Homo sapiens: one gene and its partners. The protein of the gene in region 1 purifies or fractionates together with the protein of each later gene. This does not show direct contact. Each region holds a gene or a part of one and is shown in the gene's direction. Other genes may lie near its edges. The genes, in order: CEP76, CEP290, CAMK2D, KIAA0586, CCP110, CEP97 and ZNF804B.

What was found.
Region 2: the proteins of CEP76 (region 1) and CEP290 purify together in Homo sapiens (co-immunoprecipitation; 5 studies listed by BioGRID and IntAct, with this or other methods). This does not show direct contact.
Region 3: the proteins of CEP76 (region 1) and CAMK2D purify together in Homo sapiens (affinity purification with mass spectrometry, with the first as the bait; one large-scale study listed by BioGRID). This does not show direct contact.
Region 4: the proteins of CEP76 (region 1) and KIAA0586 purify together in Homo sapiens (co-immunoprecipitation; one study listed by IntAct). This does not show direct contact.
Region 5: the proteins of CEP76 (region 1) and CCP110 purify together in Homo sapiens (co-immunoprecipitation; 4 studies listed by BioGRID and IntAct, with this or other methods). This does not show direct contact.
Region 6: the proteins of CEP76 (region 1) and CEP97 purify together in Homo sapiens (co-immunoprecipitation; 4 studies listed by BioGRID and IntAct, with this or other methods). This does not show direct contact.
Region 7: the proteins of CEP76 (region 1) and ZNF804B purify together in Homo sapiens (affinity purification with mass spectrometry, with the first as the bait; one large-scale study listed by BioGRID). This does not show direct contact.

What each region holds. Positions count from the first base shown.
Region 1 is NC_000018.10:12,696,224-12,699,723, reverse strand, and holds part of CEP76 (centrosomal protein of 76 kDa), read left to right. Parts: intron 1-520; coding exon 521-745; intron 746-2,315; coding exon 2,316-2,501; intron 2,502-3,500. UniProt on the Homo sapiens protein: Centrosomal protein involved in regulation of centriole duplication. Required to limit centriole duplication to once per cell cycle by preventing centriole reduplication.
Region 2 is NC_000012.12:88,135,589-88,139,088, reverse strand, and holds part of CEP290 (centrosomal protein of 290 kDa), read left to right. Parts: intron 1-2,302; coding exon 2,303-2,446; intron 2,447-3,500. UniProt on the Homo sapiens protein: Involved in early and late steps in cilia formation. Its association with CCP110 is required for inhibition of primary cilia formation by CCP110.
Region 3 is NC_000004.12:113,450,739-113,454,238, reverse strand, and holds the end of CAMK2D (calcium/calmodulin-dependent protein kinase type II subunit delta), read left to right. Parts: 3' UTR 1-3,207; downstream 3,208-3,500. UniProt on the Homo sapiens protein: Calcium/calmodulin-dependent protein kinase involved in the regulation of Ca(2+) homeostatis and excitation-contraction coupling (ECC) in heart by targeting ion channels, transporters and accessory proteins involved in Ca(2+) influx into the myocyte, Ca(2+) release from the sarcoplasmic reticulum (SR), SR Ca(2+) uptake and Na(+) and K(+) channel transport.
Region 4 is NC_000014.9:58,465,719-58,469,218, forward strand, and holds part of KIAA0586 (protein TALPID3), read left to right. Parts: intron 1-116; coding exon 117-311; intron 312-2,016; coding exon 2,017-2,204; intron 2,205-3,500. UniProt on the Homo sapiens protein: Required for ciliogenesis and sonic hedgehog/SHH signaling. Required for the centrosomal recruitment of RAB8A and for the targeting of centriole satellite proteins to centrosomes such as of PCM1.
Region 5 is NC_000016.10:19,533,942-19,537,441, forward strand, and holds part of CCP110 (centriolar coiled-coil protein of 110 kDa), read left to right. Parts: intron 1-1,998; coding exon 1,999-3,500.
Region 6 is NC_000003.12:101,731,114-101,734,613, forward strand, and holds part of CEP97 (centrosomal protein of 97 kDa), read left to right. Parts: intron 1-726; coding exon 727-840; intron 841-1,374; coding exon 1,375-1,541; intron 1,542-3,500. UniProt on the Homo sapiens protein: Acts as a key negative regulator of ciliogenesis in collaboration with CCP110 by capping the mother centriole thereby preventing cilia formation. Required for recruitment of CCP110 to the centrosome.
Region 7 is NC_000007.14:89,326,200-89,329,699, forward strand, and holds part of ZNF804B (zinc finger protein 804B), read left to right. Parts: intron 1-1,144; coding exon 1,145-1,275; intron 1,276-3,500.

The sequences.
Region 1 (3,500 bases):
AAATACTTAAAATTTTATGGTTGGCTAAAACAGATTGTTTTGCATGAAGTATATCAGAAGAGTTAATGTATAGCACGGTAGAAGCAAAAACAGCATCACCAGTTTCTTGTGTTTTAATAATATGTTTTATAAAAACTGTACAGCCTTGCTTTTAAATATTAATATAATTGACAAATACACTTGCTGAATTGATAATTATATGAGTTGGTTTGTGAAGGTGGAGGAATGTTGGATAAGCAGTTAAAAAGCAAAAGTATACTACATATTGGCTCTGATGCCTTTTCCAGCTGGGAGAAAGTAGCCTGGATGTAAACTCAGAAAAGAATATCATATTTTGTGTATCTTCTCCCCAGAGTGCAAATGATTCTGGCATATACAGTAATAAATTTGTTACTCTTTTGCTTTTTTTTTAGTCTTTGGTATTGGGTTTTTATCTGTCAAGTTTTTATTTCCTAATGTCTTGATCACATTCTTTTAAGTTATTTGGCAGTTTCCTCATATATATTGCTACACTTTACAGCTAATATTGATCCAACACGGAGGTATCTTTACCTTCAGGTTTTGGGTGGAAAAGCTTTCTTGGAACATCTGCAAGAACCTGAGCCTTTACCTGGACAAGTTTGTTCAACGTTTACTTTATGTTTACATTATCGAAACCAACGTTTTCGTTCTAAACCTGTTCCATGTGCCTGTGAACCAGATTTTCATGATGGCTTTTTACTTGAAGTACACAGAGAAAGCTTGGGTAAGAAACAGTAATAAATTGTCATTTAATTGAGTAAATCTTTGTTATGTTTTATTGTGAAACAATAATAATGACTTTTTCTGTAAGGAGAGATTTATAATGGAGGAATCTCTATTTTGTTTCCCACTGCTCTTTTCAATTTAAACTACTATCCACCTTCTTGCAATATTCTGTTTGCTATTCATTTTCCCTGGATATTATTTTTTGACTGTTTTCATTGTTGATTCTTTAGTAATACACACTTAAATACCTATTATGTGCATAGTGTTATGCTAGGCAGGTGCTGGGATGATATAGTGGAAAATGAGACATGGTCCTTCTCATTTATAAAATATAACCAGATTGATGATGTTATGTAACTTTTAAAAGTCGAAGTTTAGGCTGAGCACGGTGACTCACAGCTGAAATCCCAACACTTTGGGAGGTCTAGGTGAGAGAATCATTTGAAGCCAGGAGTTCAAGACAAGTCTGGGCAAAGTGAGACATTGTCTCTACAAAAAATAAAAAATAGGCTGGGTGTGGTGGCTCATGCCTGTAATCCCAGCACTTTGGGAGGCCAAGGCAGGTGGGTCACCTGAGGTCAGGAGTTTGAGACCAGCCTAGCCAACATGTCGAAACCCTGTCTCTACTAGAAATACAAAATTTCTAGCCGGGCATGGTGGCAGGCGCGTGTAATGAGCCGAGATCACCCCATTGCACTCCAGCCTGGGCAACAGAGTGAGACTCTGTTTAAATAAATAAATAAATGAATAAATATTTATAAATTATTTATAAAAACTTCTAATAAATTTTTATAAATACTTACAAATAAATATAAATAAAATAAAAAGTCAAATTTAGATGTGAACATATAACTGTCATTTTAATTTTTTCTTTTTTTTCTTATTTCTCCAATAAAGCATGTAATTCTCATAACTAAATTTTATGCTACTTGATTCCTGTAATTGTTTTACACTATGTTTCTTTCAGTAAAGGTATTTTGTATTTTGTAATTGTCAGTATGGAAATCTTTATATTTGTAAACTAAGCAAAGTTTCAGAATGTCTTCACAATTTTAGATTTAAAGATGACTGAAACATTACTAAAATTTATTTTTTTCCCTTTGAAAGATGTTACCTTAATAAGGCAATTAATAGGATAAATTGCTAGATTCGATGTGCTGTATTTTTCAGTTGTATGTCAATTATACAGTGATAATTTCTGGAGGTTAAAGGGATTTCTTGAGGTAGTTTGGGGATTAATATTGACATACTTGAAGGCTTTTTATTGTAGTAGCATATACTTTAGTTAAGTACTTTTAAAGAACAGACTTATCTTATGAATCAGAAAGCACTGATATGCTGTAAGTTACTGGATAACTCATCACAATTTGCCAGTCTTCTGAAAAGTTAGTGATAGAAATAGGACTGTACTTGTATTTCCAGTTTTTTGCATGCTTTCTGAGACATTAGCAAATTGTTCTCTTTGGTTTTATATAAGCTTATTATTTACTGTTTAATAAAAGTATTCTTTTATGTTGGCCTAACTGAATATGTAGTGTGGTATAATTTCGTTTGGATTATATTGCTAGGTGATGGAACTAGAATGGCTGATTCAACAACAATGTTATCAATAAGTGATCCAATTCATATGGTGCTAATCAAAACAGACATATTTGGTGAGACGACTTTAGTAGCATCATATTTTCTGGAATGGCGATCGGTTTTGGGCTCAGAAAATGGAGTGACCAGTCTGACTGTGGAACTTATGGGTGTAGGTATGGTGATTAATATATCATTGTTAACCTTTTTATAGCCACAGTTCATTTGTAAATATATTTTATATCTTTAAAATGCTTTTATAATCCAAGAGGGAAACCTGTAAAATAGAATTTCGTTAGAGTTACAATTGGACCTCAGCATCCTAATCTTGAGAAATGTCTTGAAGAATAATATCAGTATAGCACTTCATGGTCAATCTGACCTTGTCTTAGGAGAAATGTTTTTTTCTGGAAAATGAATACAGGAATTTTGAGGGTTTTAATTTCAAGTTCATTTGATTAAATATAAGGCTATAAAGAAAATTAATATTCTTGACACACATACAAACTTATGTGTGTCCAGTCATCACACCCTGGAATACATCCCCTTTGGTACCAGTGATTCTTGCAAAATACAGAGTAGATGTTCTCCCAACCTTTTACAGTGTGGGTGAGTGAGACTCGGAAGAGGAAATAATTTGCTCAGTGTTAGTATCAACTAGTCCTTGAGGGCAGAGCTGGTGCCTATCTTATTTATCATAGTCTCCTTGGAATCTTGCACACTGCCCGCTATGTAACACATACTTGCTAATAAAATGAGAAAACAAAACCTACCAATGTTTTATCTATAACATATAATGGAATTACTTTGGTTTTTAAACTTAGTCACAGAGTTAAACCTTGCCAGTGGACAGCATAGCCTTAGTAATTTAGATTATTATTATTATTATTATTATTTGAGATGGAGTCTCGCTCTGTCACCAGGCTGGAGTGCAGTGCTGCAATCTCGGCTCACTGCAACCCCCGCCTCCTGGGTTCAAGCGATTATACTGGCTCAGCCTGCTAAGTAGCTGGGACTACAGGCATGCACCACCACACCCAGCTAATTTTTGTATTTTTAGTAGAGATGGGGTTTCACCATGTTGGCCGGGATGGTCTCGATCTCTTGACCTCGTGATCTGCCCGCCTCGGCCTCCCAAAGTGCTGGGATATTGGCGTGAGTCACCGCGCCCAGCC
Region 2 (3,500 bases), on another chromosome or scaffold:
TTTCAAATTTTAAAATTATTGTTGGCTGGAAAAATTATAAGGATGATTGTAATCATGGTTATTTGTTTATTCTGTATATGTTCTACATGCCTATTATGTGCCTTATATAGTACTAAGGACTGAGCATATGGTTGTGAACAAAATAAGAAGTTAACTGCTGGATGGAGCTTATAGTCTTGGGAAATATACAGAAAGATTACTAGTAACTGAGGTGGAGGGTGGGTGGGGATTTGAGGAATAGTGACGAAAGGGTGTTATAGAAGTAATTTTTGACAAAGCTGAAGGCTAAAATATGAATGTATTGTTGAAGAACAAAATACATTGAGATTCCTGAGAAGGTAGGAATGTGATACAAATGGATCAGCCTTTGAAAGGAGGAATACCCTTTTCCTTTGTGTTAGGAGAGGAGGATGAGTGGATGAGCGTGGGAAGAGTGGATGTGTATAGAGGCTTTTATGTTTGTAGGCATAATGCTTGGAAGTTGAGGGGTTGGTGATGACATCTTCTGTTAAAAAGAGTGGGAAATGGTGTGGTCACATTTTAAGGAAATTAGGTAAAATTTGAAATATATTGGAGACAGGACTGGAGAGTTGGGGATCTGGAGTCAGACAGATTTGAGTTCTAGTCCTGATTCTTCTACTCGTTAACTCTCTGAACTTGGATGACCTATTGTTTTTGATTGTATATCCAGCTCCTGGGAAAATGCCAAGCACTTTCAATAAATACTAAATGAATTATGGAGTTGGATCAGTTCTGTGTTAGTGTTTAGCTAGGTAGCTGCTGTAGAATAGAAGGGTAGCACAGTTGAAGATATTGGTAGGAAAGTGGTTGAAGTGATGATTATGAAGTCTTAACTGAATAGATAAAATCAAGATTGGGGTTGGGTGGGCAGAAGGGTAGGGATATGGAGGGAGAAGATGAGGGGTTAGAGTGTCCTGTGAGGTCGAAGGACAGGCATAGTGGGAATAATTGAAAGAATGTTCTGGTTGGACAAGGATCTGATGTGGGTGTGGGAGTGAGAGACTATAGTGAATTCAAGAAAAAAATAGACTAGAACAAAAGTTATGTGGAGATTGCTTAGTGGGCATTTGATAGACATCTGTGGGCCACATGCTTAAATTCCCAGTGCATTTTGCGGAGTTACTGGAAGGTTGGTGGCTTGTTTCTACCATGAGTAGGTAAAGATGGAGAGCAGGATATTTTGTGAGAAAGCAGCTGAAGTTTCTATAGGATGATGGAGGAATGATAGGAATGATCACCTGAAGTTGCAGGGTGGGGTAAACCTAGAAGCACCAACACCTTCTTCTGACCCTCATGTATTTGGAATCTGAAAGAATGAGCACCTTCCAATTGAAAGAGTTCCAAGGGCATTAGTATACTAAAGGATCCAAATTGCAGCTAAGCCAAGGAGATGGAAAGGAGGATTCAGTAAAGAATCTGAGGATGTGAAATATTAATTTATCTTGGAAGAGAATTTTAGAGAGCACAATGGAATGCTTTTTGGAGGAGAGAAAGAGTAAGAACAATTTGGTTAAGGTAGAGGAATAACAGAACTATAAGGTGAAGAAATGAATGTGAGACACATTAGATGACCAAATGATTTGATGTTCTTGGCCATGACCTGAATTAACAAGACTGTGAGGTAAAATGGATTTAATCGGCTACAAATCTTAAGATAACCAAAACCTGAGCTGTTTAATATGGTAGCACTAGCACTAACCACTTGTAGCTATTTATATTTACATTGGTTAAAATTAAAATGAAAAATTTAGTTCTTCAGTTGCACTAGCCACACTTCAAATGCCCGAACATAGCTACATGTAGCGAGTGGCTATTGAACTGGACAGCACTGACAGCATGTCCATTATGCTAGAAAGTCCTATGGGACAGCACTGGTCTAAACAGTGCATGGTATGAGAGAAAGGGCAGGTTAAGGCACTCAGCTTCACTGACTGGGGTGGAGATTCTGATGGTTTGTACTCAGGTTCCAGATCCCTGAGGCTCAGGAACCTTTGCAGTTTAGTCTGGTTACCTGTGGCCCAGTGGTTACAACAGAATGATTAACAGTCAATTCTTTGCATCTCTGGGTGGCTCAGGAAAAATTTAAGGAGTTATTAGCTGTGAACTAACCTTAAGTAAGTTAAATTAAAAAAAAAAAAGTTCTTAAGCTAATATGATTTTAAATATCTGCACTGAAGTATAATGCAAATTTAAATTCAGCATAATTATTTGCTTGTTGTTGACTCATTTGAACCTCAAAATATAATGGGATTAATTTATACTTTGGGTTTATTACTTTAAGATGGCTCAGCAGTCTGCAGGTGGACGAGATACTCGGTTTTTACGTAATGAAATTTGCCAACTTGAAAAACAATTAGAACAAAAAGATAGAGAATTGGAGGACATGGAAAAGGAGTTGGAGAAAGAGAAGAAAGTTAATGAGCAAGTAAAGCACTTTTTTTTTCCATGAATCTTCACTGTTCAAGTTACCTGGCTTTTTATTATTATTGGTAACAATATCAATTTTTATATTGTATGTTATATTTGAAAAATGATGTACACTTATCTCTAAGGTTTTATATCACTGTTCATTTTGTCATCACCAATTTTAAAATATAATGGTACTTCTAGTGAATATGACTTGAAGATTAATTCTTTATATTTGGAAGTACATTTTTCTCAGGACATCAAACTTGTTACCTAAAATTAATGCTTTTGTCTGGAAGATTGGTATCAAGTAACTAATAGATTTTCATAAAGAAGTGATCTTTCTAGTGCCATAGTTTATTTTGGGTAAAAGTTATATTTGTTCATTTCAATGTATTTATATGATTAGTAGATTCGCAAATGAATCTTTCGATATATTCAATAATGGTTAATTAAATATCTTGTTTTTGGTTGTACCTTATTTTATGTGAGATATATATATATATGTATAGTTTTTGAAAAGTTGTGTTCATGTCAGCAGTTTATAAATCACATATTTAAAATAACATTTTTAATGCATAGTTTTTATTACCTCGTTATTCCTTGTTATAAACTAATAATTCTTGCAGTGTTCACTTGAATTTAGTTTTAGGAAAAAAGTTTTTTGCAGATCAACTTGTATTTCCTGGAAGAAAATTTCCTATTTTACCTCAGCTTCCTATTTAATGTATTATTTATTTATTTACTTAACATTTATTTGTTTTTTATTTCACCTGAACTGTTAGTAAACTTAGTAAAATTTGGTGCCTACATGTGGTAACTGTCCTGTCCCTTATACTCAGAAACGTTTTCCACCTTTGTGTCCTTTAGGTCATTGTTGTGTTATATTCCATTTATTTTATTTTGTCCATTGTTCTCTCAGAAATTGAGGGTCATACATTTTAAGAAAACAATGATATGCTATTTAAGAGAATGTATCATAAATTGATTTGTAAGGAAAAGTATCCCCATTCTTCATGTATGTATTTTACTCTAAAATGTTGAAGAATCATATAGAAGTTAGCTATGAAAAC
Region 3 (3,500 bases), on another chromosome or scaffold:
ACAACTCTTCATCAAGTTTCTCTGTTAATGCCAAGATTTAACAGACTTAAGAACTATTGTTCTCTGAATGACAGTTGTAAGAGAAATGTAAATTTTTTAGAACTCTTTGCTGTTAATCTGTTTTGGTTTGTTTGGTTTTTTTTTTTTTTTTTAAGGTAAAAAAAAAATACACCTTCAGTTTCCTGGTGTGATCCTGGTTAAAATGGATGATTTTTCATTGAAAGTTTTGCTGATTAACAATTAAAGTGGGATGATATGTGGGCAAAATCACTTATGAAAGTAGAAGCAAGAATCAGTTGGTTTGCTACCACATAAAGCCATGCTGTTTTTGGTCAAACTGTGTAAACTGGAAAAATTCACATCATTTCTGAGTTTAATCACTTTAGGATATATTCACATTGTTTTGGTGAATTTGCTGAATTGAATTGTTTTTCTTTCTCAAATCTGTGATCTCTTTTCTTTATCCTGTTTCTTTGTTCCTTTCGTTTGCTTTCTTATTTTTCTTTTGTTCCATTCTTTTCTTACTTTTTTCCCTTTTCCTTTTTTGGGGAGGCTGGCTAGTAGTGTGTGAGAAAAGAATAGAAGTGAAATTTGCATAATGAATGTAAAAGGGAAATAAAAGTCTTTTGAAGGTAGCTATACTAGCACTTTTGATCATCTTCAGGGCCCACAAAAATGTTGTCAAGATTTTAAAGGTTTATAATTCTGCTTAAGCTCTAGTTTGGACTTAGGTATCCTAACTATGTTGGAGGTATTTGCATTGTTTAAAGTTAGGATAAAAGCAAGTTCCTCCTGTGACTGCAACGTCTTACTGATTGGGACAGTTGCCAGGAGGATACCAACTTGATAGCAGAGGGGGTTTTATGCAAACGCACTCACCTCCGCCTTGGGGAATGAAAGGGTCACTTCTGCATCATCACTAGCTAGTTTTCTAGTGTTAGAGAGGCTTACAAATGTTTGCCATTCTCATAAGTGTTTTGAACTTGATCTTTGTGACTTGTGCTTTTTTAGCTTCTCTCTTGAATCAGAGTATCATTGTCTTCCTCCAAGGAGTTAGAATTTCCCAGTTTAAAACAAAAAGGGAAATGTCCTAGGTTTTCTTTGTGCTTCTCATTTTTCCTTTGTTGATTCAATTCCTGTGATTTTTGTTCTCTTCCCTGAAGTGCTTTACAGTGCATGGAATCTCCATCATTGTTATTTTAACGATAGTAATTCACAGTCCTCAGAAGCCTATTTTTAAAGCAGAAGCAAAAAAGAAAAACAAAATAACAAAAACAACCCTTCCTCTTTTCTCTCATCTCACCTCTCTGTGTTGATTACTAATCATCTTAGATATTATTGCTAGTGGATGTATGGTAGATGGGTTGAAGCTTTTCTGATAATTATTACACAATTTAAAACAACATATATATTTAAAATAAATATATACAGTAAATATATTGAGCCATGTTAACCTGCCAATGAGATCTGTGAAAAAATAATGGCCTCATTTTTCTCTTTTTAATTTCTTTTACCCTTTTGTGAAGCAGCTATACGTGGCATACATGTATTTAAAGAAAAAAAAATAGATGTAGAGTGTTTTTTTTACACTTTTAACTTAGCATGTGGTGTTGAAGTATTACTGTAGATCAAGTTTGTCTTCCGCACTAAGATGTGAGGAAATTGTGATTTGTTCTCTCCACCACAAATGAATTACACATTTATTATCTTCTATCATTTTGAAACACTGCAGTTTACCATGGGACACTGTATATATTTCTTGCCATAATGGTAAAGGACTGATTGATATATTTAAGAGTTAATAAATTTGTGATTTCTGCTGACAGTGCGTCCATCTTTATTTCTTCAGAAGAGGTACTGTATGTATGCCTGCATAGTGCTGGCCAGTGTCAAGGGCAGTGTGTCCTACTCTGGTCTCATTTAGTACATAACAATTTGCACTTGGTGAGAATGGCAAGTTAATTGTTCTCTGTGAGCAAAACAATGGTCTCTTCTGGGAAAATGTTGCTGAGAACAATATAGTTAACAACTAAGACTCCTAAAAGCTTCTCTAAACTGTACCCTCCAATCCAGCCTTCACATGGCTGCTTTTTTTTTTTTTTTTTAATACGAACCTGTCCTTGTAACACTTTGATGTTATCATTTCTGGGATACAGGCAAGCACCCCAGCTCCTGCTACTCCCCAGCTTGAACTTGAGCATACATGGATGCTCAGCTTCTTTTGATTTGCTAAAAACATCACACTTGCTCACATGCCTGTTTATGCTGTTCATGTTGTTTATGTTTCTTACCTAGAATAAATAGTCTCTTCCCCTACTTCTTTTCCCGACTTCTTACTTTTTCCTAAGATTCAGTGTACAGCATCATGCTCCACAGCAAACCTTCCTAGGCCCTATTCTGGGCTTGCCTTCCCTCTCAAAACCTACATAATAGATTGTATTTACCTCTCCTGTCAACCACATTGTTTTGAAAATATATTTCTATTTGTGTCTCCTCTACTGCAGTATAATGTCTCCATGGGCAAGAACTGTGTATTCATCATTGCATTCCTAAACCCAAACCAAGGCCAGGAATGGAGATATCATTGATAAATAGTTGTTGAATTGAGGCCAAGCCCTTTTGATAACAGAAGCCTCAAGGGGTACCCAGATAGTCCTTGTTTTAATGATGGGTTCTCTCACCACTGTCTTGATGCTCTGAGCAAGTTACCTCTTCCCTCTGACCCTCAGTTTCCATATTTGTAAAATGAGAATAAACATACCAACTTAATAAAGATATTGTGAGGATTAATGGGTACAGAGTGACTAGAATGATATTTGATAGAAATTAAATGGTAGCAGTATAACTATTCTGATCACTGACATTAATATTCCTATTGTTATTATTCTTTGCTCACGAGGGTATACAACTCTTGTTTTGCTGTTGGGCTGCCCTCTTTATGTAGGTTTACTGTTAATGCTGAGGATATACTCGGACTCAAATGTCTCAGCAGAAGGCTGAGAGACACCAAATGAAGTGGTCATCTAGCTGAATGTAGGAAAAATGAAATGTAGTAGCAAATCAGTATATTCTAAGGAAATTTTCAAGGAATATTAATCTTCACCCAAATTTTGAATTTTTATGTAAAAAATTATAATTTAAGGGTAAACATAGATGACACAGCTTTCGAGTGATTTCATTGAATAAAATTCTACTGACTTCTATGAACCTTTCATGGCTCTGTGGTCTTTTTATCAGATTTTTTAAAGGTGAGAATGTACAAAAAGATTACAATGAAGATCAGCGTACTAGACCATGTGTCCATGAACTGAACAACAGCTGTCATAAACCACCCTAACCTGAGAAAGCAGCAGGAAGCATTTACAGCATTCCTGCTTTTCTCTCAGACAAAACCAATTCTCAGAAGAGAGCTAGAATGTTCTCCTGCAGACTGGAGTAGGAAAAGTTGATAACAGATTAAGCAGTAATTGTACTCCAGAAGGATTTGCATTTAGGCTTTT
Region 4 (3,500 bases), on another chromosome or scaffold:
TTGTAACCTTATATAGAATTAAGATTTTTCTGTGAAGAGCTGTTGTATTTCTAGATGTCTGGATAGTAGATATTCTAACAATATTTTAAAATATCTGCCATTGGTGATTATTATAGGCACTAAGGTAAAGTCAATAAGAACACAGACTGACTTCTATGCAACAAAACCTAAGAAGATGGATTCTAAAATGAAACATTCTGTTCCTGTGTTACCTCATGGCGATCAGCAATATTTGTTCAGCCCAAGTAGAGAAATGCCTACTTTTTCAGGTACATTGGAAGGTCATCTGATTCCTATGGCAATTCTTTTAGGTAAGAATCAACAAAATATGTGGGATGGATTTTATTTTATTTATTTATTTGTTTGTTTGTGTGTTTATTAGAGACGGGGTTTCACTGTGTGGCTCAGAGTGGTCTGGAACTCCTGGACTCAAGCAGTCCACCCACCTCAACCTCTCAAAGTGCTGGGATTACAGGCGTGAGGCACCGTGCCCAGCCATTGAATTTTAAATTCTTATCAGCAGTAGCAGAACTTACAAAATGGTACTAACATGATAGTCATCTACCTTTTCTTGTAAATGTTATTTGTTTTTGTGGGGAAGGCCTCACAATGTATTTTATGCTGTGTAATAGCAATCTCTGAAATGATGGGTTCCTGCTGTAGTTTCACCAATAGGAAAAATTCTTTTGGTATGTTATATTATTGTAGATGAAATGAAATTTTAAACAATATTTTGGCTGGGCACAGTGGCTCATGCCTTTAATCACAGTACTTTGGGAAGCCGAGATGGGAGGATTGCTTGAGACCAAGAGTTTGAGACCAGCCTGGGCAACATAGCAAGACCTTGTCTCAAAAAAAAAAATTAGCTGGGCTTGATGGCTAACACCTGTAGTCCTAGCTACTCTGGAGGCTGAAGCAGGAGAATCCCTTCAGTCCAGGAGTTTGAGGCTGCAGTGAGCAATGATTATGCCACTGTACTCCAGCCTGGACAACACAGCAAGACCCTGTCTCTTAAAAAAGAAAGTTTAAATATGTCATGGACATTCATAATAATTCAATAAGTTTGATTATCTTGTTAATATCATTATGTCTTTGGGGAAGTATTAAGGTACTTTTTTTTGTACTTTTGAACTAGGCTATCATAAGTGAAAGCTGTGTGGGTGTGTAATCTAAGCCAATAGTTGTTTATTTACTTATTTGCCTTCTCTCTGAGTCTTCATGTTAAAAATTGAACAGATCATTTTTGTCCTCACACCAGCTGTTCAAGTCTAATTAGCTCTTTTTTCCCTTTAGTGTCATTGCTGTTCTTTTGTTTTGATTAACAATTTAAGTATGAATATTTTTTAATGTAAGAGACTTTTTTATTTTTGATATTATGGGTTAATTTCATGTCAACATAATAGCTCTCTGTTTAAACATATCTCCTAGTAATAAAATAGCTCACACTTTTAAAGTTCTTACTGTGTGCCCGGTACAGTTCTGAGCACTTTACATATATTCTCTCATTTAATCCACCCTATAAAGCACATGGTAATATACAAATTGTATAGCTAAGAAAACTGAAGCACAAAAGGGTTACATAATTTGTCAAAGGCTACACAGCTAGAATGGTGCCAGGATTCAAACCCAGGCAGAGGCAGTCTGGCTTTATAGTCTGTGTTTTCAACAAGTACACTGTACTACCCCTCTTTACTTTGATATGTAGAAGTCAAGTGGGACTTTGGAAGTGAAAGTTTTTGACATTTTAAAATGTGGATAGTATTAATAGCTTTCTATTAGCCTTTATTTTGAGGTTTAAATTAGATAGTGATGTGAAGCGTTGAGTACATATAAGTGCTTAATAAAAGTCACTGGGTATGGTGAGTATGTCGACAGTGCTGATGATGGAGGGAGGGGTGATTGTCAGATAGGGCTTTTTTAAATATGAGAATATAGCCATTAAGATCCAGATGGTATATTAGACTTTTCCCTTTTTTTCTGAACTAGTTGACTTATTTTTTCTCCTAAACTTCTTAGGACAAACCCAAAGTAATAGTGATACCATGCCACCTGCTGGAGTGATTGTCAGCAAGCCACACCCTGTAACTGTGACTACTTCTATTCCTCCATCATCTCGAAAAGTAGAAACTGGAGTAAAGAAACCTAACATAGCCATTGTAGAAATGAAGTCAGAAAAAAAGGATCCTCCTCAGCTTACTGTGCAGGTATGCCAGGGTGCATGAGTAGAAAATTTTAAGGAAGAAAAAATTTTTTTGCTTAACGTTAGTACGGAAATCCATTATATTGCTTCATAAAAATATTGCTTTTGATCATGACTCTTTTTTTTAAATTTATTTTTATTTTTTAGACAGAGTTTTGCTCTTGTCGCCCAGTCTGGAGGGCAATGGCGCAATCTCGGCTCACTGCAACCTCTGCCTCTTGGGTTCAAGTGATTCTCCTGCCTCAGCCTCCTGAGTAGCTGGGATTACAGGCGCCCGCCACCATGCCCAGCTAATTTTTTGTATTTTTTTTTAGTAGAGATGGGGTTTCATATGTTGGCCAGGCTTGTCTCAAACTCCTGACCTCAGGTGAATCCACCTGCATTGGCCTCCCAAAGTGCTGGGATTACAGGCATGAGCCACCATGCCCCGCTGGCTCTGTTATTTTTAAAACTGTGATATTAATATGATGTTTCTGTCCTGTTTTGCATGATTTAAGCTGCTCTTCTAGGCCAATGACTTATATACAAGTGGCTTGGTGATATTCCAAGGGGAACAATTGAACTGTGTATTATAATTAATTTTAAAAAGTTAATATATGTGACTTATATAATTAATACTTCAAACTTTACACTAACATATGTTAGAAGACTTGAATGAATACAAGACTTCAACAGGCTCATGTGGGAAGAAACCCTTTGACATTTCACAAACATCTACCCTTCGGCCTGGGATCCAGCTGTAGAAGCTGAGGTCTTCACTAGGTCTGGACAAAGGTGAACATGAGTATTTACATGCGACTTTCTATTGACCAGTCAGGAGGCAACTGTAGGAAAGCATTCATGAACTGTGGTAAACTTTTTGGCTGATTTACTCCAACTCCTGTATTCGTCTTACCATCCTTGCTTACTTACAAATAATTAGAACACTCCAGTCCTTAGACTGCTCCAAGGTTCCTCTTTTGATTGAGCCAGGACAAATGAGTTTTCTTGGGCAACTTAGTATGCCCTCTGGGAAGAGAGAAGACTTGCCTCATTCTTGGATCCTGATCACTGAGGAGAAGATAATCCTGGAGCTGTCGGATGCCACCACATGAACAGTCAACAGGCTCTTAGTACTGATTTTTGACTGGACACTCCTCCCTGAACAAACGAACTATCCATTTCTTCTGCACAAATTTATACAGAACAGCCTCAACCCACCAGCCTGAGAGATTCCCAGGGACTTAGAAATCACCCATGTAGCTCCACAAACACTTCGTTCTCATAGATTGACTTCCACCCTGCAGCTAAAATTGATAGT
Region 5 (3,500 bases), on another chromosome or scaffold:
AATCCCTATGTAATGAGTCTTCAGAATCTGATGAAAAAGTCAAAGGAATATATAGAAAGAGAACAATCTAGACGCAGGCTGAGAGGTAGTATTAAGAGAATTGTTAATGAGAGTCATAGTGACTCTCATGTGACATAGTTGAGTTTGGGGTCCTGAGATATTATTTCCCTTTCACAGTAGTATATAGTGTGTGGGTAGTAGATTTCATTTTGCAGATTATAATTACTGTCCATATTAAGTTTAAAAAATGTATTGAGTAGCACTAATTTAACAATAAGAGGTAGGTTTTTTACTTACTACGTATTTCCTGTGATTGAAATGAAAATGGCATATCATTCTTGGTCCATTGAGGGAAGATAAAATATACTACTAATAAAATTGTTAAAAGAGCATGTATAATGTTGAACTGTAATGAATTAATTATTCAGATAGGAAAATTTTATATAATACAATTAGATTTCTGCTTCACCTGTAAAACCTAAGATTCTATGATAGATTTTTTTCTTGTTGTTATTTAACTTGTCTAACTAAAGGCTCATTTTAGTGACGTATAAACAACATAGCTTCCGAATATCACAAATGTGAAATATTTTACGTAAGGAAATCATCTGTTTTACTTAAACCTGTGAACATGTTCATGGATTTCATAAATATGCATCCTTTTTGTTTTATTTTGGTCCTGAGGCTGTGACTAAGTATGTCTTGTACTCTTGTACTGTTGATTGCATAGTACCTGGAAACCTTTTTGCATCTTTTTTGTTTTATTTTGGTTCTGAGGTTGTGACTAAGTATGTCTTATTGTACTGTGTATTGCATAGTACCTGGAAACCATTACCTGTCTTGGGATTTGTAACGTAAAATAGGAGAGCCATGTGGTCTAGAAAAAAACAAGCACATTCAAAACAACCAAAAAATATTGTAATATTCAGACTTTTTTTTTTTTTTTTTTTTTTTTCTGAGATGGAGTCGCGCTCTGTCGCCCAGGCCGGAGTGCAGTGACGTGATCTTGGCTCACTGCAAGCTCCGCCTCCCAGATTCATGCCATTCTCTTGCTTCAGCCTCCTGAGTAGCTGGGACTACAGGTGCCCACCACCAAGCCCAGCTAATTTTTTGTATTTTTAGTAGAGATGGAGTTTCACTGTGTTAGCCAGGATGATCTTGATCTCCTGACCTCATGATCCGCCCGCCTCGGCCTCCCAAAGTGCTGGGATTACAGGCGTGAGCCACCATGCCCCGCCAGTAGTCAGGCTTTTGATGTCTGTATTCATATGATAATACAATGATTTTTGCCAGTTTAATATACGGATGTATAATTACCTTTAGAAACTATCCTAGTTCTCTTTTTATTCTTTTGCAAAGTTGGATTATTTAGATACAAAATATCTATTTTTACATTCATTCATTCATTCATTCATTCATTTTTGAGACAAAGTTTAGTTAAACTTTGGAGTAAGCATGTAGGTGCAGGAGTCTTATTACTGAATCATTTTTGCTTAATCAATGTCCTGGACAAGTTAGTCTTTGTTAGAGAGGGAATCGTTTACGTAAGACATTTCATTACTTGCTGTTTATTGCATATATTATTATCCTTGGATGATAGCTATCCTAGGAGGAACAGTTGGTAATGTTAATAACATATGACTAGAAGAAATTTAAGTGCTTGTATTCTAAGATTAAATTGCACATGGATATATGAATATATGTGTGTGTGTATACACATATATATGTTCATATTTGTATCAGATTAGATGTTTCTTTTTATAACTCTTTTATAACTCTTTTAATAACTTAGGCAGGATGACCAGTAGGCATCTTTTCAATAATAATTTGAGCCCCCTGTGATACAGGATACCGTAGAAACCTGTCATCTTAGTTTTTCTTTATGTTTTGAAATGTCAGAATTCTGAATTTTCAATTTCAATTTTATTTTAGAAAACAGTGAAATCAGAGACTTTTTGTGCAATGAGGAAATATTAATTTTTAAATTTCCTGTTTCAGGTTAGAAAAGCACCTAATGCCAGTGATTTTGATCAGTGGGAGATGGAAACAGTTTACTCTAATTCAGAAGTCAGAAACTTGAATGTTCCTGCTACATTTCCAAATAGCTTTCCAAGCCATACGGAACACTCTACTGCAGCAAAGCTTGATAAGATAGCTGGGATTTTGCCATTGGATAATGAGGACCAATGTAAAACTGATGGAATAGACTTAGCTAGAGATTCAGAAGGATTTAATTCTCCGAAGCAATGTGATAGTTCCAATATTAGTCATGTAGAAAATGAAGCTTTTCCAAAGACCTCTTCAGCAACCCCACAAGAAACTCTTATTTCTGATGGTCCCTTCTCAGTAAATGAACAACAGGATCTACCACTTTTGGCAGAAGTCATCCCAGATCCCTATGTAATGAGTCTTCAGAATCTGATGAAAAAGTCAAAGGAATATATAGAAAGAGAACAATCTAGACGCAGTCTGAGAGGTAGTATCAACAGAATTGTTAATGAGAGTCATTTAGACAAAGAACATGATGCTGTTGAAGTGGCTGACTGTGTAAAAGAGAAAGGCCAGTTGACAGGCAAACACTGTGTCTCAGTTATTCCTGACAAACCAAGCCTTAATAAATCAAATGTTCTTCTCCAAGGTGCTTCCACTCAAGCAAGCAGCATGAGTATGCCAGTTTTAGCTAGCTTTTCGAAAGTGGACATACCTATACGAACTGGCCATCCCACTGTTCTAGAGTCTAATTCTGATTTTAAAGTTATTCCCACTTTTGTTACCGAAAATAATGTTATCAAAAGTCTTACAGGTTCATATGCCAAATTACCTAGTCCAGAGCCAAGTATGAGTCCTAAAATGCACCGAAGACGTTCCAGGACATCATCAGCGTGTCATATACTTATAAATAACCCAATAAATGCCTGTGAATTAAGCCCTAAAGGAAAAGAACAGGCAATGGACTTAATTATTCAAGATACTGATGAAAACACAAATGTGCCCGAAATTATGCCAAAGTTACCAACTGATTTAGCGGGAGTTTGTTCAAGCAAGGTTTATGTGGGCAAAAATACATCTGAAGTCAAAGAAGATGTGGTTTTAGGTAAATCAAATCAGGTATGTCAATCTTCAGGAAATCATTTAGAAAATAAAGTTACTCATGGACTTGTTACTGTGGAAGGTCAGTTAACATCCGATGAGAGAGGCGCACACATAATGAACAGTACCTGTGCTGCGATGCCAAAGCTGCATGAACCATATGCCAGCAGTCAGTGTATAGCAAGTCCAAACTTTGGAACTGTGAGTGGACTCAAGCCAGCCAGTATGTTAGAGAAAAACTGCAGTTTGCAAACAGAACTGAATAAGTCTTATGATGTAAAAAACCCTTCTCCTTTATTGATGCAAAACCAGAATACGAGACAGCAGATGGACACACCTATGGTGTCCTGTGGAAATGAACAATTTTTGGATAACAGTTTTGAGAAAGTTAAACGGAGACTTGATTTAGA
Region 6 (3,500 bases), on another chromosome or scaffold:
GAATACAGTTGCAATTATGGATGTAGGTTATCACTCTCTTTTTTGGAAAATTTGCTTTATATGTGGTTGTTTTAATGACTTTTTTTTTTTTTTTTTTTTAATTTGAGACATCAGAGTCTTGCTGTCACCCAGGCTCGAGTGCAGTGGTGCAGTCATGGCTTACTATAGCCTCGACCTCCTGGGCTCAAGTGATCCCCCTACCTCAGCCTCCCCAGTAGCTGGAAATACAGGTGCACCTCATCATGCCTGGCTAATTTTTTGATTTTTAGTAGAGACCAGGTCTCACTATGTTGCCCAGGCCGGTCTCAAACTCCTGGGCTCAAGCAATCTTCCCTCCTTGGCCTCCCAAAATGCTGGGATTACAGGCATGAGCCACCACACATGGCCTCTATTTTGATATTTTAAAAGAAAATGAAAAAGTGTGTTAGAAATTGCTCAGTGTCTCATAAGTTAAATCTCACAGCATGCCTAGTTGCTATGCCAAGCATGTGTTTTTGGACAAGTCTTTAAAATATCATGAGCTTAGGATGTTGGTATGAAAACAGAGAGTTGGACCAGAAGATCATCAAGGACCCTTGTAGCATTAACAGTCTTTGATTTGTGTGTGATGAGAAATATAATAAAGTAGATTCCTTTATTCTTATATGTACCATTTTGGTGTTGTCACAATAGGCCAATTTATTTGTAATCTTTTCATTTGTAATTCATACTGTTTTTACTTTCAAGACCCTGCTTTTACATGGAAACATCATCACCTCTCTTAGAATGGCACCTGCTTACCTACCCAGAAGTCTTGCTATACTTTCTTTGGCAGAAAATGAAATCCGAGACTTAAATGAGGTAAAATTTGAGGGTATTTTGTGAGATTCAGGAAGCTGGAAATCCTAGGAAAGACACAGGAGAGGGTTGTGAGCTTACTTTTAGACTGTGAGCATCTTGGAAGAAACTGCCATTCATATGAAATGCTTGGCTCTAGATCTTTCCACTTTTCCTTAGTGTCAGTGGGTCATTAAGGTCTAATTTCCTTTGTAAAGCTGTAATTATCATTCCACTGGGAGGCGATTGGTGGTAGAGGGACATCTACGTTATAAGGGTTTATAAGACTCCCTGTCCACCTTTCCTGGCTGCTGTGATGTTTTCAAAATAGGGTTATTTCTGCTAGGAAACAGTGCTGATATTTGCCAGGGGATTTTGTGCAGCAGGGACAGATGGCTATATTGTTGAAACTTTGGAAGTCAATGGACACTTGTCACTTTTCAGAACAAGAGGGAAATTATCACATTCTCAAATGCTGCCAAAGATATGTAATCAGTGGAAATTTTGTGCTTGACACTGAATAGTCCTTTTGTTCAACAAAGATATCTTTTGTTCCAGATCTCTTTTTTGGCATCCTTAACTGAATTGGAACAGTTGTCGATTATGAACAATCCTTGTGTGATGGCAACACCATCCATCCCAGGATTTGACTATCGGCCGTACATCGTCAGCTGGTGCCTAAACCTCAGAGTCCTAGATGGATATGTGATTTCTCAGAAGGAAAGGTAAACATGTGCTCTTTAACATCACAAATGTTACTGAAAAGACCATTTCTAGTTTACTACAGATTAATAGAGTATTTCTTAAAATGTGCATTTAGATAACAAGAGTATTAGTGCAGTCATGTAGCAGACTATATGCTGGTCATTTAGGATTTTCTGTCATTTCTAAAAAAGGATAAGAAATAAATATTGGCCTGGTGCAGTGGCTCATGCCTGTAATCCTTGCACTTTGGAAAGCCGAGGCAGGAGGATTGCTTGAGCCCAGGAGTTTGAGACCAGCCTGGGCAATATAGGGAGACCACATCTCAAAAAAAAAAAAAAATTAGCTGGGTGTGGTGGTACACACCTGTAGTCCTAGCTACTTAGGAAGCTGAGGTGGGAGGATTGCTTGAGCCCAGGAATTTAAGGTTACAGTGAGCTATGGTTGTGTCATTGCACTCTACCTTGGGTGACAGAGTGAGACCCTGTCTCTGAAAAAAAAAGAAGAAATCTCGGCCCCAGAGATTGGAGCTAGTAGTCTTAGTGCCCTACATACAACAATTTGATTTCTAAAAGTTCTTTTGTTAATCAGTTGTTTGGAGCTTGGAACACTTTTGCTTAGAAACCATCATGTTATAGATCCTGTGTAGGATCTCAGATCAGTCTCACAAAAGCTTGTAATATATTAATCTATCACATATATAAGGGCCGTATTTTTTATTCATTTTATTTTCTATTTTATCATCCAGCTCCAAATGCCATGTAAGGGCAGTATTAGTAGTATCTTAGAATTCTCCAAATACTCATTATAATGATAACTCTGGGAAAATGCAGAGTTTTAATTTGGAACTAGTAGCAGATGTGGTGATTGGTCCTCCTCTTCTTTTTTTTTTATTTTTTTATTTTTTATTTTTTTTTGAGACGGAGTCTCGCTCTGTCGCCCAGACTGGAGTGCAGTGGCGGGATCTCGGCTCACTGCAAGCTCCGCCTCCCGGGTTCACGCCATTCTCCTGCCTCAGCCTCCCGAGTAGCTGGGACTACAGGCGCCCGCCACTACGCCCGGCTAATTTTTTGTATTTTTAGTAGAGACGGGGTTTCACCGTTTTAGCCGGTATGGTCTCGATCTCCTGACCTCGTGATCCACCCGCCTCGGCCTCCCAAAGTGCTGGGATTACAGGCGTGAGCCACCGCGCCCAGCCTTTTTATTTTTTTTGAGACTGAGTTTCACTCTTGTTGCCCAGGCTGGAGTGCAATGGCGCGATCTCTGCTCATCACAACCTCCACCTCCTGGGTTCAAGCGATTCTTCTGCCTCAGCCTCCCAAGTAGCTGGAATTATAGGCATGTGCCACCACACCCAGCTAATTTTGTATTTTTAGTGGAGGCAGGGTTTTTCCATGTTGTTTAGGCTGGTCTCAAACTCCTGACCTCAGGTGATGCGCCCGCCTCGGCCTCCCAAAGTGTTGGGATTACAGGCATGAGCCACTGCACCTGGCCAGGTTCTCCCCTTCTTATACCTGTGAAGCAGCAGAAGCAAGAATTCCCCCACCTGTAAATCATTAATAGTTTCTGTGGCTTGGAGCTGGGATCCCTGCAGAATGGAGTCTTCTGGACCCTGATACCTGATCAGTGGAATGAGAGCTTTAGGGGAGGTAAGGAACTAGGATATGGGAAGGAGGGAGTGGAATTGGGATAGTGAGAGTTGAGATGACTTTATTCTGTCTACTATGCTTCATTTAACTTTTTTCTCTCAGTACATACACACATGCATTATGGACTCAACACATACATTATCCCTCGCCTTTTTTTGTTCTTCTCTACTACAGACAGTAGTTACTTCAGGAGTTTCCTGATGGGAGGACGGGTGGTAGATTACAGACAGCGTCTCCCTTCTCTGTCTCTCTGCTGTTTTGTATAGTTTCTGAGTAAAGCACAGGGCCGTGAGGAATGGCAGCCAAGAGCTAGATAGTGGTGGTGCTGGTGTA
Region 7 (3,500 bases), on another chromosome or scaffold:
CTGTAGCTGTTTCTAATTCCGTGAGGTTCTTGTTCTTTGTGCTGAGAATATTCTCTCTTTGAAAGACCGATCTGCCTTCTTCTTCAAATCCTTAGCTTAGATGTAGTTATCTCACCACTGTCTACCATGAGCATGTTTCATTTAAAGAATGAAGCTAATGAAAGGTTTTGGCCCTTGCTCTGCAAGTGAGTAACAGTCGGCTCCAGTATTATTACGTCACATGATAACTATGTAGTTTTCTCCATACCTGGGAAACATCTCTTATACTTGATATGGGAAGTGAAAATAATTTCAACAGATACAGATTTTAGACTGTTTAAAATCACTTTGTATGAGTTAAGAGGATAATCTTTAAATACACTTCCAATTCAGGATTAAGCCCCAAACTTCAAGAGGTTCATTTGATTTTGGCTGTTTCTCAGTTCATTCAATATCATTAGCTGTGCTTAGTGGCAGATTCTTAAGAAGAGGTCTTACTTGCATGTAAGTCAATTGTTTTAGAGAAAATATTAATTAAAATAAGTGGTGAGTGAATTTAAATCAAGCAGGGCCATGCCTCTATTCTGAGTTTAAATCCCTGACTCATTTTTTTCTGTCTTCCTGGATACAATATAGAAATATGTATTTGATAAATATCTCCATCCAGAAAAATGAATTCAAAATCACATTTAGAGCTTTGAACCAAATCTTTCACAGTAACAGATGCTCTTTCCTGAAACAAGCTTATTCCACCCAGTGTATTTAATAGCATCACTTTTACAAGTGAGGGGCAGGTGGGTGGAAGAACATGCATCTCATAACCTGCCTCCCTTCATACTCATTCATATATTGCATGTTTTTCCCATTTGTGTTTTTATAAGCACACAGATTATTATACTTGCATAGCCAGGGTGATACCAGCGAGGCCTGGGGCCCAGCTTTGCAGTGACTGTGACAAGCTTGGAAAAATAACCTGGTTGACAACACATTTATCTGCTAAATGTGTCTTGGAGCAGAGAATAGCAACAATGGAGAAGATACTTTTACTCTTTCTGCCCAGAAAGTCACCTCTGCACTTAGGATAAAGAATAATAAGGAGCCTTGTGGATGGAAAAGAATATATTATTTATTTATAGTACCTTTTTGGTTTTTCTTCTTTTTCAAGAGACTGAAAGAATTAAAGCAACGGGAATTTGCTCGAAATGTAGCTTCTAAGTCATGGAAAGATGAGAAAAAACAAGAAAAAGCACTTAAACGACTTCATCAGCTGGCTGAGTTAAGGCAGCAATCTGAATGGTAAGAATTAAAGGTGTCTGGGATGCTTCAAAACTCTCGTCAACCTATGGGGAAATTTTAAAGGCAAATCTACTGTAACAATGTAAACAAATAATAACTAACTAATAGATATGTCTGAAGGGCAAATATAGTTAAACATACATAAATTAATAACTTTTGGCCTTTGATATTTTTCTTTCCTAATATTGTTAATTTAATGTACTCTATAATGAAATGATCCCAGAATGATTCAAATACATTAGCATTTATTCTATCCAGTTGACTAAATGGATTAATATCACTTCTTAATATATTTTTTAAATTTTGTAATAATAATTTTAAAAACCATAATTAACAATATATCTTAGGGGGTGGGGAATAAGTCTTCTGAACATTTCCGTGTACACACCTGTGTCTAGTACAAATAACACGATCATTGTCTGGCTGACAAACAAGATGTAATTAATGCAGTTAAATTTACCACACAGTGCCATTTAAATTGATAATTATAATATAACAAGTTTTATACTAATACATTCTTGTAGCTGAAAAATAGCAGTTTTACCAAAGCTTGGAACCACTGGATGTTTCAAAGTTGTTACCTGGAATGCAATTAAATTTGTGGATTGTGATTTGTGTTCATATGAATCATAATGTAAAACACTAATGTAGCTAATTAATGTGTTTGACAGCAACCTAGTGAATTGTGAAACTTATGCCTCTGTGCCAGAATTTAAACACCTATTGCTTAAATGGAAAGTAATATATAATAAACAGGAGTGAGTGGCTCAATTAGTTACCACAAAATATTAGACTTAAAAGGTAATTTTAAGGAAACATTTATTTTTGTAGGACCAATTATGAGTAAAAATGCAATTAATATTCAGCTTGCATGTATTTATTTATAACTTTTAGAATAATCTAATTAATTTATGAAAATACATAAAAGATAATCATATTAACAAGAAATGAGAAATTTCATATGAAGACAAAATAAAGGTACAACATGTAGCCAGAAGTAAGGTTAATACAAAAATGCATGCTCTGGGGTCTTATACAACTCTAGAAGCAACGCATACATTTGGTACTGAGCTTTCTACAGCCAACACAATGAGGGACTTACAATATGTTGTGCAAACATACTGTTAATGAGAACTCAGTCCTTGCCAAAATAGGGCTTAGAAGGAAAAGTTCTATTGTTGTTAGGGTAGCATGCAGGAAAAAATCTAGGGAAAGTGTTAATTCCTGTGATTAATAAGGAGATGCAGTAAGTCAGATCATAACAAATGGTACAAGTTCTAACATAGATATACGTCTTTAGACAGGTCCCTTAAGGGCACAACAGTAAATCTAAATAGTCTTAACAAATATAATTTTGGTTGTTTGTTATTATGAAAGTTGTCACACTTCTACATTTCTGCTTACCCATTCTATATTTTCCTCTGGAGTAAATAACAAAGAATCAGAGGTGCCTTGCTGATGGCAGTGGTCATGGTGATGGTGATGATGATAATGATGCTGATGATGATAATGATGCTGATGATGATAATGATGGTGATGATGATGGTTTATTTAGAAGTTCCAAGTTTGCTAGAGCTACCCATTAAGTTTCTTTCAAATAAAAAGGTCCACTCTATTAAGTTTCAGCTGTCCCTCTGGAAGCCTTATTCACTAAACAAACACAAACCTAACCACTCCTTTTGGTGATTTGATAAAATAGGCAAACTCTCTAGGTCACAATGTGCCCGTATTGTTATGGAAAAGACAAGTGTTCAGCTTTCTAGATATAGAGCCTGAAACTAGGAAAATAATTTTTTTTTATCGTCTACTGCCCATCACCTGCCTCTTAGCCAATTGCTCTCTCTGCTTAAACAGACTCATGGTTGAAGGAAAGTCACTTAACAGAATTATTAAATACTTTATTTTAGTAGGTGAATTGACAAGTGAAAGTTAAAAATAAAATAAAAAGAAAAAATCACTGGCATTACCCTTCTCCTGGACAATCTTTTCTTTGTCCTTTTTCCTCATAATGAGGGCTTCTGAATAGGATGATCCAGGTAACACAATTCTTCTGTGACCCTTTGGGAGAAGAGAGGTGAATTTACTGGTAGTGCATAAAATGATGGCAAAAAAATGGTAACAGATCTTATAAAGGGTCATCAAATTTGACCGTCTCTTAACTAGTTCCAGCCAACCTGTTTCCTCAGCAATAGCAGTTATTATATGGGGCTGAGGGTTTAGTCCCT